3 linked regions of the Homo sapiens genome follow. The protein of the gene in region 2 interacts with the protein of the main gene of each other region in a pairwise test. Each region holds a gene or a part of one and is shown on either strand. Other genes may lie near its edges. The genes, in order: RARG, LSR and MAPKAPK5.

What was found.
Region 1: the proteins of LSR (region 2) and RARG interact in a two-hybrid assay, tested with the Homo sapiens proteins (one large-scale study listed by BioGRID and IntAct).
Region 3: the proteins of LSR (region 2) and MAPKAPK5 interact in a two-hybrid assay, tested with the Homo sapiens proteins (one large-scale study listed by BioGRID and IntAct).

Annotation. Positions count from the first base shown.
Region 1 is NC_000012.12:53,225,627-53,229,274, reverse strand, and holds part of RARG (retinoic acid receptor gamma), read left to right. Parts: intron 1-1,587; 5' UTR 1,588-1,729; coding exon 1,730-1,913; intron 1,914-3,648.
Region 2 is NC_000019.10:35,262,387-35,266,034, reverse strand, and holds part of LSR (lipolysis-stimulated lipoprotein receptor isoform 2 precursor), read right to left. Parts: intron 3,490-3,648; coding exon 3,343-3,489; intron 1-3,342. UniProt on the Homo sapiens protein: Probable role in the clearance of triglyceride-rich lipoprotein from blood. Binds chylomicrons, LDL and VLDL in presence of free fatty acids and allows their subsequent uptake in the cells.
Region 3 is NC_000012.12:111,848,607-111,852,254, reverse strand, and holds part of MAPKAPK5 (MAP kinase-activated protein kinase 5), read right to left. Parts: intron 1-3,648. UniProt on the Homo sapiens protein: Tumor suppressor serine/threonine-protein kinase involved in mTORC1 signaling and post-transcriptional regulation. Phosphorylates FOXO3, ERK3/MAPK6, ERK4/MAPK4, HSP27/HSPB1, p53/TP53 and RHEB.

The sequences.
Region 1 (3,648 bases), on a different chromosome or scaffold from region 2:
ATATACCCATCCCCTACCTCTGGGCCTGCCCACCCCATGGTCTCTCTGCATTTTAGTCTCTTGGCCCTTCTCTGCCCTTCATAGCAGTCTGTTATGGCTCTGACTGGTGGAGATACCCAGGCTGGGGTGACTTTTCCTCCCTAGCCCACTAACTGCCTAGAGAGGTGAGAAGTTCTGGGGCTCCTAGGAAAGCCAAACTTTTCCTTTGTCAGGGGATGAAGATAGGAACCACCTACTTAGCACTAGGATTCCCATCTCCTCTCTCTACCTCCTTCTCCTCCCCTTCCCCTGGGCTCAGGTTTAAACTCTTAGAGGGAAGCCTACTTTTGGGGGAGGAGAGGTTGCAGGGAGAACTTCCTAGAAACAGGGAGCCCAGGGATAAGAAAGAAAAGGAGGCAGAATGCCCGGGCGTGTCGCTCACGCCTGTAATCCCAGCACTTTGAGAGGCCAAGGTGGGCGGATCATCTGAGGTTGGGAGTTCGAGACCAGCCTGACCAACCTGGAGAAACCCCATCTCTACTAAAAATATAAACATTAGCTGTCTCAACAAAACAAAACAAAAAAAGAGAGAGAGAGAGAGAAAAAAGGAGGCAGAGAAGTAAAGTCAGCTGACCAAGAAGCAGCTCCTTGGCATCATACACTTGGCACAAGTGGGGGCTCCATCAACATCCTTAGATTTGAAGCAGTGGGTACAAGAGGGCTTACAGGGTGAGGAAAAATTGGAGACAGGAAGAATTGGGAGAGGAAACTGGAAGAGGGAGTGTTGAGGAAAACAGAGAGGGAAGTGCTTACTGAAGCAGAGTATGGAGGAAAATAAGGTACAAAGAGAACTAATATGAGACATTTACATCACATTTCCTATGTGCCCTACATTATGCCAGACACTTGACATTGGTTAATTTATTTAGTCCTCACAATAACCATATGAGGTAGGCCCTATTATTAGTCCCAAGTGACGCATGAAGAAACTGAGGCACAGAGAGATTAAGTGACATGCCTGAAGTCCCACAGCTAGCAAGTGGTGGGGTACAGTCCAGGTAGTCTGGCTCTAGAGTCTGTCCCCCTAACCTTTGCCTTGTACTCCTCTCCAGAGAGCTGTAGGGCTCCCAGGTTATAACAGAGTTATGTTTGCCTTCTCCAGGATGGTAAAGAGTTTGAATCTGGGCTCCCCCACTTGCAGCCATGTGACCTTAAGCCAGTCACTTCACCTCAGTTTCCTCATATGTGAAATGAGAATCATAACTCCCAGTTCACAGGACTGATGTGAGGTTTAGGTCAAATGCTTAGCCCAGTTGTGGTGATTCATGATCACTTCCCAATCTAGGAGTTCTCTCCACCAGAAGTCCTTAGACCATCATTCACCTTGGGACCTCAGTTTAACCTTTCCTGGAGCTCCTCTGGAGAGTTTCTCAGAGCCTGCATAACCCCCTGCCGTGCCCTCTCTACCACACTGCAAGGGCCCTGAGCCAGGGCAGGATAAACTGTAGCAGCACAGAGGGAGAAGACTGCAACTGAGAGAGGGTCACAGGGCTTGGAACCTCAGAGTGGTCATTCTCTCATCTCTCCTTTCTCTCTCTTTCTCCCTAGGACTTTTGGAGGCCCAGTGGGCAGGCCAGGCAGGGCGGGTACGGAGCCTCCCAGGCTGGGGCAGTGGGCATGGGCAGGGGCTGTGGCTGAAGACCTCGCCCGCCCACTGCAGACCCCAGGGGACTCTCACACCGCAGCTGCCATGGCCACCAATAAGGAGCGACTCTTTGCGGCTGGTGCCCTGGGGCCTGGATCTGGCTACCCAGGGGCAGGTTTCCCCTTCGCCTTCCCAGGGGCACTCAGGGGGTCTCCGCCTTTCGAGATGCTGAGCCCTAGCTTCCGGGGCCTGGGCCAGCCTGACCTCCCCAAGGAGATGGCCTCTCTGTGTGAGTCTCAGGGATCTTGGGGAATGAAGGCAAATGTTAACAAGAAGGCATCAGGAGGGTGGATGGTAAAAGAGTTGGCACCCCAGTTAGGAAGGCAGGCAGGGGACAGGGGTTTGGCCTAATGGAGTAGTAGTGAATAATGGAGGGTGGTAGTGGTGGTGAGGAAGGAGTTTGGATGTGGACTCAATGGAAGTGTTTGCAAATGAGAGTTCTCCTGTCAAATAGGATAGGGAGGTAGCAGGCCTAAAACTTGGGGGGTGGGTATCTAAAACTGCCTCCTGGGTCAGTCAACTAGTAGAGGGGAATACCTTTGTGTGGGCAGCTGGGGGTGGGTCTGGTGCAGCGTGAATCTGCTGCTTGCTTGCAGTGGGGAGTTGGAGGGAGCCAAACTGGGAAGCAGAGGAGTCTGGGAGGCCAGTCACCTGGCTCTGTGATCAAGAGGTGAAATTGGGTTGGGTGCAGTGGCTAACGCCTGTAATCCCAGCACTTTGGGAGGCCGAGGTGGGTGGGTCACTTGAGGCCAGGAGTTCGAGACCAGCCTGGCCAACATGGTGAAACTCCCCCTCTGTTAAAAATGCAAAAATTAGCTGGGCGTAGTGGCGCACACTTGTAGTCCCAGCTACTTGGGAGGCTGAGGCACGAGAATTGCTTGAACACAGGAAGCAGAGGTTGCAGTGAGCCAAGATCTTGCCACTGCACCCCAGTCTGGGCGATAGAGTGAGAATCTGTCTAAAAAAAAAAAAAGAAAAAGGCTCACGCCTGTAATCCCAGCACTTTGGGAGGCCAAGGAGGGCAGATCACCTGAGGTCAGGAGTTCGAGACCAGCCTGACCAACATAGTGAAACCCCGTCTTTAAAATTACAAAAATTAGCCGGGTATGGTGGCGTGTGCCTGTAATCCCAGCTACTTGGGAGGCTGAGGCAGGAGAATCGCTTGAACCTGGGAGGCAGAGGTTGCGGTGAGCTGAGATCGTGCCACTGCACTCCAGCCTGGGTGACAGAGCAAGACTCCATCTCAAAAAGATAAAAAATAAAAAAAGAAACCCCATCATTACTAAAAATACAAAAATTAGTGGGCGTGGTGGCGCATGCATGTAATCCCAGCTACTCAGGAGGCTGAGGGAGGAGAAGCACTTGAACCCAGAAGCGAAGGTTGCAGTGAGCCAAGATCGCGCCACTGCACTCTAGCCTGGGCGACAGAGCAAGATTCTGTCTGAGAGAGAGAGAAAAAAAGGTGAAATTGCTTTGAATTACATGGAGGCTGCAAAAAGGGGAAAGAAATCCTGTGCCAGGTCCCCAAAGATGTGTGGGGTCAGGAGACTGTGCTTCTTGGTTCTGGGGAGGATGGAAATGACTGCAAAGGAGGTAGCTTTTGTACCATAAGTAATCCAGAGAGGCAGAGGGGGTGTTCCAGAAGCATCCTCTCCTCCAGCGATGTGGATCTGGGCTCCTCCTCTCCCTGCAGGTCTGGCATAGAGCCTGCATGCTGTGCAGATCCCTACTTGTTCCCCAGGCCTGCCCTCTTTGGGTTAAGCCTTTGAGTGCTGACAGCAGCCAAGGCTTGGGCCTCTCCTCTCCTCCTCCCTCTGGGACCCCTCTCCTCCCAGTTGGTAGTCATTCCTCCTGGCCAGGCCATTACAGGTGGGGGTTCCAAGCTGGTTAAGAGAAGGCTTCAACTGGGGCCAAGAGAAGGTGATTGAAGGGCGGGGGAAAGAGCAATTTCAGAGACAGAGTTG
Region 2 (3,648 bases):
AAGGTTTTACCTAAACTTCCAACTCCCCAGCTAACTTACTGGAAGAAGTGGCCACCCATGGTCTGTGTGTTTACAGGGCAACAAAGCTGCCCTTTATATAAAGCCCAGATGCTGGGTCCACCACTGTCCCCACAAGCCGAAATCAAGTATCCTCTTTGGCAGCCAAGCCCCTGTTCTAGAAAAAATGAGTCATCTGGGAGACGTGGGTCCTGCCCACCTGGTCACCTTCCAGATTGAGATGCAGTGGCAGGAGCCTCGGGAATTAACTTGCCTGCCCCGGCCAAGCAGCAAAGTGTCTCCTCTAGTGTTTCTAACTCATGGACTGCACCCATTTCTGCCTGCCCCACCAGGCTCTAGGCTTGACAGTTCAAGGTAAGATCCTCCTCCCTTCCTTCCTCCCTAGGGCAAGAGGCTTGCAAAATTCCTGGGCCCTAGGCAAGTGGCTTCCTCCCTGGGACCCCAACAGGAAAATGGAGGAGAGAGATGGGCCCAGAGAGGGTGCCTCACCTCTGATTTGGTTTGGAAGCAGAAGACTAAGTGCACAGCCTAGAGGAAGCCCCTTCATTAGCTCAGGCAGCCTGCAACTTTATCATCAGCAGTGGGACCTGCTGCCTCCTGAAGGGTGGGCGGAGGCTGTGGCAGCAGCAGATGTAACAGGGCCTCTGCCAGGGAGTTAATGGGGCCCTGGGTTGGGGTAACAGGGTCTCCGGATGGAGGAAATGTGGTGTGGGGACAGGGGAATGTGGCATTGGGACCAGCATTTAGTCCTGGCCCTAGCTCTGGTCTTAGTGGGTTCACTGCAAACTTGGTTGCAGCCCATCTGTGAAATGGACCTAACACTTACTCACTGAGCAAAAAGCTGTCAGCTGAACACAACAAGAGGGAGGGGATGGGATGGCCTGCATAAGCCTCCAGGGAGCAGTGGAATTTTTTCAGGGAAGTGATCCTTTGAGGAACCAGGTTGCACACCACTGACTTCAATGACTATAAAATTAGCCAGCGACTTCCTTAATGCTAACAACAACCCATGAAGTCAGGACCTAACAGAAGGAAACAGGACTCAGAGAGGGAAGGCTGCTTCTCTGGGGTCACTCTGTGTGCACCAGGGCTCTGACTGGTGCCCTGTCCCTCAGTCACTACTGAGGCTGATAGTGGCAGTGCCCAGCAGCTGACAGACGTAGAATATTTTATATAGGTTGGGCCCCATGCTCAATGGTGTGCACATGAGCTCGCCAAATCCCCAGATGCACCCAGTGTGGTGAGCTCTGCCATAAGCCCCATTTTATAGGGGATGACACTGAGCCCTAGGGAGGGAAACTGCTCACTGGGCTTCTGAGCAGGAAGGTGTCAAGCAGGCCTCAGCTCTCCACCTGCCCATGCTTGCAAGGATTGCCTGGCACTTCACTGTTCATGTATCTTGGACTGTGTGCACACAGGCTGGTCTACCCAGACACCCTCCTGAAGGAAACCAAGGACTGGCAACAGCTGTGGTCCCCGAGGAGGGGAAACGGGACAGCAGCTAGAGGGATGCTGAAGTGTCCATCAGTGCCACTTAGTGTACACACTGTGGTCTGGTGTCCCAAGGCTGATGGCTGTGACCACGTCAATCAGCTCCTCTGTGAAAGTGTCCCGTTGGGATATTCACAAACATTCACAGAAGAGAGACAGGAGCAAGTCTTTTTCAATTGCACATGTCTGACTCCTCTCATAGAGTTAGGTCCCTCTCTCTCTGTCTTCTGTCTTCTCTTACCTTCCCCTGCTTGGTTTGCTTACTTCCCCTTTAGCTCTCATCTCACATCCAGTCCCAGCTCTCCACAGTAGCCATGCTGGTGTGCTAGATACGACCCTAGACATAGTAGCTGGGTAAAATGTGCAGCATTCCTGTGGGTATGTGTTTTCAAACATTTGCTTAAATTTGGCCAGGCATGGTGGCTCACACCTGTAGTCCTAACACTTTGGGAGGCCAAGGTAGGGGTGCGGGGGAGCGGACTGCCTGAGGTCAGGAGTTCGAGACCAGCCTGGCCAACATGGCAAAACCCCGTCTCTACTAAAAATACAAAAATTAGTCAGGCGTGGTGGCAGGCGCCTATATCCCAGCTACTCGGGAGGCTGAGGCAGGAGAATAGCTTAAACCCGGGGGGCGGAGGTTGCAGTGAGCAGAGATCACGCCACTTTACTCCAGCCTGGGCGACAGAGTGAAACTGTCTCCAAAAAAAAAAAAAAATTTGCTTAAGTTTAAGGCCAGGTGTGGTAGTTCATGCCTGTAATCCCATCACTTTGGGAGCCTGAGGCAGGATCACTTGAGGTCAAGAGTTCAAGACCAGCCTGGGCAACATAGCAAGACCCTGTCTCTACAGAAAATTTTTAAAAATTGGCCAGCATGGTGGCACATGCCTGTAATCCCAGCACTTTGGGGAGGCTGACTTGGGAGGATCACCTGAGGCCAGGAGTTTGAGATCAGGCTGGGCAACATACTGAGACCCCGTCTCTACAAAAAACAAAAATCAAAAAATTAGCTGGGCATGGTGGTGTGTGCCTACAGTCCCAGCTGCTCCAGAGGCTGAGGCGGGAGGACTGCTTGAACCCGGGAGTTTGAGGCTGCAGAGAGCTATGATCGCACTGCACTGCCTGGATGACAGAATGAGACCCTTTCTCTAAAACAAAAAAAATTTTTTTTGCTTAAATCATGTAGTGTTGTAAACCTTGTTTGGTTTCTTAACTTTTTCACTTAACATTTTTTTTTCTTTTTTTTTTGAGACAGAGTCTCACTCTGTCGCCCAGGCTGGAGTGCAGTGGCGTGATCTCAGCTCACTGCAACCTCCACTTCTTGGGTTTAAGCGATTCTCATGCCTCAGTCTCCTGAGTAGCTGGGATTACAGGCGATCACCACCATGCCCAGCTAATTTTTGTATTTTTAGTAGAGAACTGGGTTTTACCATGTTGGCCAGGCTGATCTGGAACTCCTGACCTCAAGTGATCCACTCGTCTTGGCCTCCCAAAGTGCTGGGATTACAGGCGTAATCACTGCGCCTAGCCAAGATTTGGTTTTTTTAGAGGGCTTTACTTCCATGTGACTAGTATCTTGTACTGTTGGACATTTTTACCATGTGTATGGATTATACTTACAAAAGAAAAGAACAACATAAATAAAAATAAACTAAAAGTTGGAGGAAGTAAACGACAATCTAAACAGCAGACCCTCCTCAGCCTACTTTCTCCCCACTGGCTAAATTCACACCCTCCAGACCAACGCCACTGTCCTGGGGGCAGGTGGATGGCCACCTCCTTCCCTTGGATGCAGGATGTTGCCCAAACCAGGGTGGCCATGAGCGGGACACTTACGGGCCTCGGGGCAGCAGCACTTGTCTGGGCAGCAGGGGCACCTGACGTAGCAGCAGCAAGTGTGCGGGCAGCACTGGCACCAGCAGATGCCCAGGAGGAGGAAGATGAGGAAGGCAGCCAGGCATACCACAACCACGAAGAGCCAGTCTGCAGAAAGACAACAGGCCCTGAGCCCGGAGGCCTGGGAGGGAACAGGGCTAACGGCACAGCAGGGGTACATGGTGCGGAGCCAGCACTGAGGTCGGGGACGATTTGCAAAGCTCACCAAGGAACCTGCAGCCCTGGCTGGATTTTTTGTGCCAGAGG
Region 3 (3,648 bases), on a different chromosome or scaffold from region 2:
CATTACAAAAATACATCCTCATTTCTGTCTGACTTTTTTGCTTTTCCATTTCTCTAAAAACATTTCTATACAATACTAATCCTTCTTCCACCATTTGCTTTCACTTCAGTGCCAGTATCACAGAAGGTTCCATTCCATATTCCATAAACAAAGCTAAAGGAAGTCTTGAATAATTGGAACCCTTCTGGCAAATTGTCTAATGTCAATTTTTTCCTGCCCCTGTTTCTTGTACATCTTATTCCTTACTGTCTGGCACAGAAGCACTCATCTCCATCAAGTCATCTTCTATTAATTCCTCAGGTGTGGTGTCTATTAGCTCTTGAATTTCTCCAAGATCTGTACCTTAAAACTCTTCACCCTTCACCTTTTTTGCCATATCCACAATCTCTTTCATGATTTCCTTAACCAGCTCTGTCATAAATCCTATGAAGTCACGCACATCTGGACAGAGTTTTCTCCACCAGGAATTTATTGTTTCAGGCCTGATGGCTTCCACAGCTTTTTCCATAACAATGGCATCTTCAGTGGTGTAATCCCTCTAGACTTTCACTACATTCTATCAGGATTCTCTTCCTTGGTGTTAACAATCTTTTCCAGAGTATCCCATGTAATGAGTCTTGAAAGTCCTGGACCAGGTGCGGCAGCTGAAGCCTGTAATCCCAGCACTTTGGGAGGCTGAGGCAGGCAGATCACTTGAGGCCAGGAGTTCGAGACCAACCTGGGCAAAATGGTGAAACCTCATCTCTCCTAAAAATACAAAAATTAGCCAGGCATTGTGGAGCATGCCTGTAATTCCAGCTTCTCGAGAGGCTGAGGCATGAGAATTGCTTGAACCTGGGAGGCAGAGGTTGAAGTGAGCTGAGATCACCCCACTGCACTCCAACCTGGACAACAGAGCCAGACTCTTTCTCAAAAAGTCCTTGAGACCTCCTGATCTACAGGCTGGATTAGAGACACTGTTTGTGGACAAGTAGACCACTTCAAAGCCTAGTGTTGAACTCATGGGATTCTCAGTGGCCAGGGGCATTGTGTCAAAAAAACTTTAAAAGGCAGTCCTGGCCGGGCACGGTGGCTCATGCCTGTAATCCCAGCACTTTGGGAGGCCGAGGCAGGCGGATCACTTGAGGTTAGGAGTTCAAGACCAGCCTGGCCAACATGCTGAAACCCTGTCTCTACTAAAATACAAAAATTAGCTGGGCGTGGTGGCAGGCAACTATAATCCCAGCTACTCGGGAGGCTGAGGCAGGAGAATGGTGTGAACCCAGGAGGCAGAGCTTGCAGTGAGCCGCGATCGTGCCACTGCACTCCAGCCTGGGCCACAGAGCGAGACTCCTCTCAAAAAAAAAAAAAAAAAAGAAAATGGGTTCTCATTATCCAGGCTTTCTTTTGGTAAAAACAGACTGGCAGCTGGTGTTTTATCTTCTCCCTTGAAGGCTCAGAGGTTAGCAGCTTTATAGACCAGGGTAGTCCTGATCATAAACTTGACTGTGTTTACACAAAACGGCAGTTAACCTAGCTCTTCCTGCCTTAAATCCTGGCACTCACTGCTCTTCCTTACTCATAAATGTCCTTTGTGGCATTGTTTTCCCCAGAACAGGGCATTTTTGTCTGCATTAAAAACCCATTCAAGCAGATATCCTTTCTCCTCAATGATTTTCTTAATGGCATCTGGGAACTTGTTTGCCGCCTCTTGGTCAGCAGAAGCTGCTTCTCCTGTTACCCTGACATTTTTTTAAGCCAAACCTCTCTACAGTTATCAAACCATCCTTTGCTGGCATTAAATTCTCCAACTTTAGATCCTTTACCTTCCTTTTAAGACACAATGACTTTTTCTCGAAAAATATTAGAGTCTATAGTTATGCCTTTCTTATAGCACTCTCGCACCCACGTAAAAGCTGCATCTTCAATATGAAATAAAAAGGTATTTTGGCCAGGCACAGTTGCTCATGCCTGTAATCCCAGCACTTTGGGAGGCCGATGCAGGCAGATCACAAGGTCAGGAGTTCGAGACCAGCCTGGCCAACATGGTGAAACCCCGTCTCTATTAAAAAGACAAAAATTAGGCGGGCATGGTGGCACCCACCTGTAATCCCAGCTACTTGGGAGGCTAAGGCAGGAGAACTGCTTGAACCTGGGAGGCAGAGGTTGCAGTGAGCCAAGATCACGCCACTACACTCCAGCCTGGTCAACAGAGCAAGTCTCCATCTATGAAAAAAAAAAGGATATTTCACAACCAGTCGTGGTGGTTCATGCCTATAATTCTAGCACTTTGGAAGGCCAAAGTGTGACGACTGCTTGAGCTCAAGAGCTGGAGACCAGCCTGGGCTACACAGTGGGACCCGTGTCTCTACAAAAAAAAAAGTTATTTTAATTAGCCAAACATGGTGGTAGACACCTGTGGTCCCAGCTACTCAGGAGGCTGAGGAGGGAGAATCACTTAAGCCTAGAAGGACATGGCTGCAGCGAACTGTGATCGCATCACTACACTCCAGCCTGGGTGATGGAGTGAGACTGTCCTAACAAAATAAAAGAAAAAGAAAAAAATGTGCTAAACTGGACTTCATAAAATTTAAAACCTTTTGCTCTTCAAAAGACACCATTATAAAATGAAAAGATAAGCCACAGACTGGGAGAAAATATTTGCCAATCACATAGCTGATAAATGACTTTTATTCAGTTTATAAAGAACTCTAGGCCAGGTGCGGTGGCTGACGCCTGCAATCCCAGCACTTTGGGAGGCCGAGGCAGGCAGATCACAAGGTCAGGAGTTTAAGACAAGCCTGGCCAACATGGCAAAACTAAAATTTTTAGTCTCTACTAAAAATACAAAAATTAGCTAGGCATGGTGGTGGATGCCCATAATCCCAGCTACTTGGGAGGCTGAGGCAGGAGAATCACTTGAACCCGGGAGGTGGAGGTTGCAGTGAGCCAAGATCGTGCCATTGCACTCCAGCCTAGGCAACAAGAGCAGCAAGACTTTGTCTCAGAAAAAAAAAAAAGAAAGAAAAAAAAAAGAACTCTTGGCCAGGTGCAGTAATCCTAGCACTTCAGGAGGCTGAGGCAGGCAGATCGCTTGAGCCCAGGAGTTCAAGACCAGCCTGGGCAACATTGTGAGACCCCATCTCTAAAAAAATTAATAAAAAAATAAATAAATAATCCTATAACTCAATAAGGCAAAGAAATCAATTTTAGGCTGGGCATGGTGGTTCACATCTGTAATCCCAGCACTTTGGGAGGCCAAGGCAGGCGGATCACTTGAGGTCAGAAGTACGAGACCACCTGGTCAACATGGTGAAGACCTCATCTCTACTAAAAATACAAAAAATAAATAAAAAAATAAAAATACAAATACAAAAAATTAGCTGGGCATGGTGGCGCATGCCTGTAATCCCAGCTACTTAGGAGGCTGAGGCAGGAGAATCGCTTGAACCCCGGAGGAAGAGGTTGCAGTGAGCCAAGGTCGTACCACTGCATTCCAGCCTGAGTGACAAAGCGAGACTCCATCTCAAAACAAAAAAAAGCAATTCTAAAACGGGCAAAAAGAGGCCGAGCACAGTGGCTCATGCCTATAATCCTAGCATTTTGGAGGCCAAGGTGGGCAATCACCTGAGGTCAGGAGTTCAAGACCAGCCTGGCCAACATGGTGAA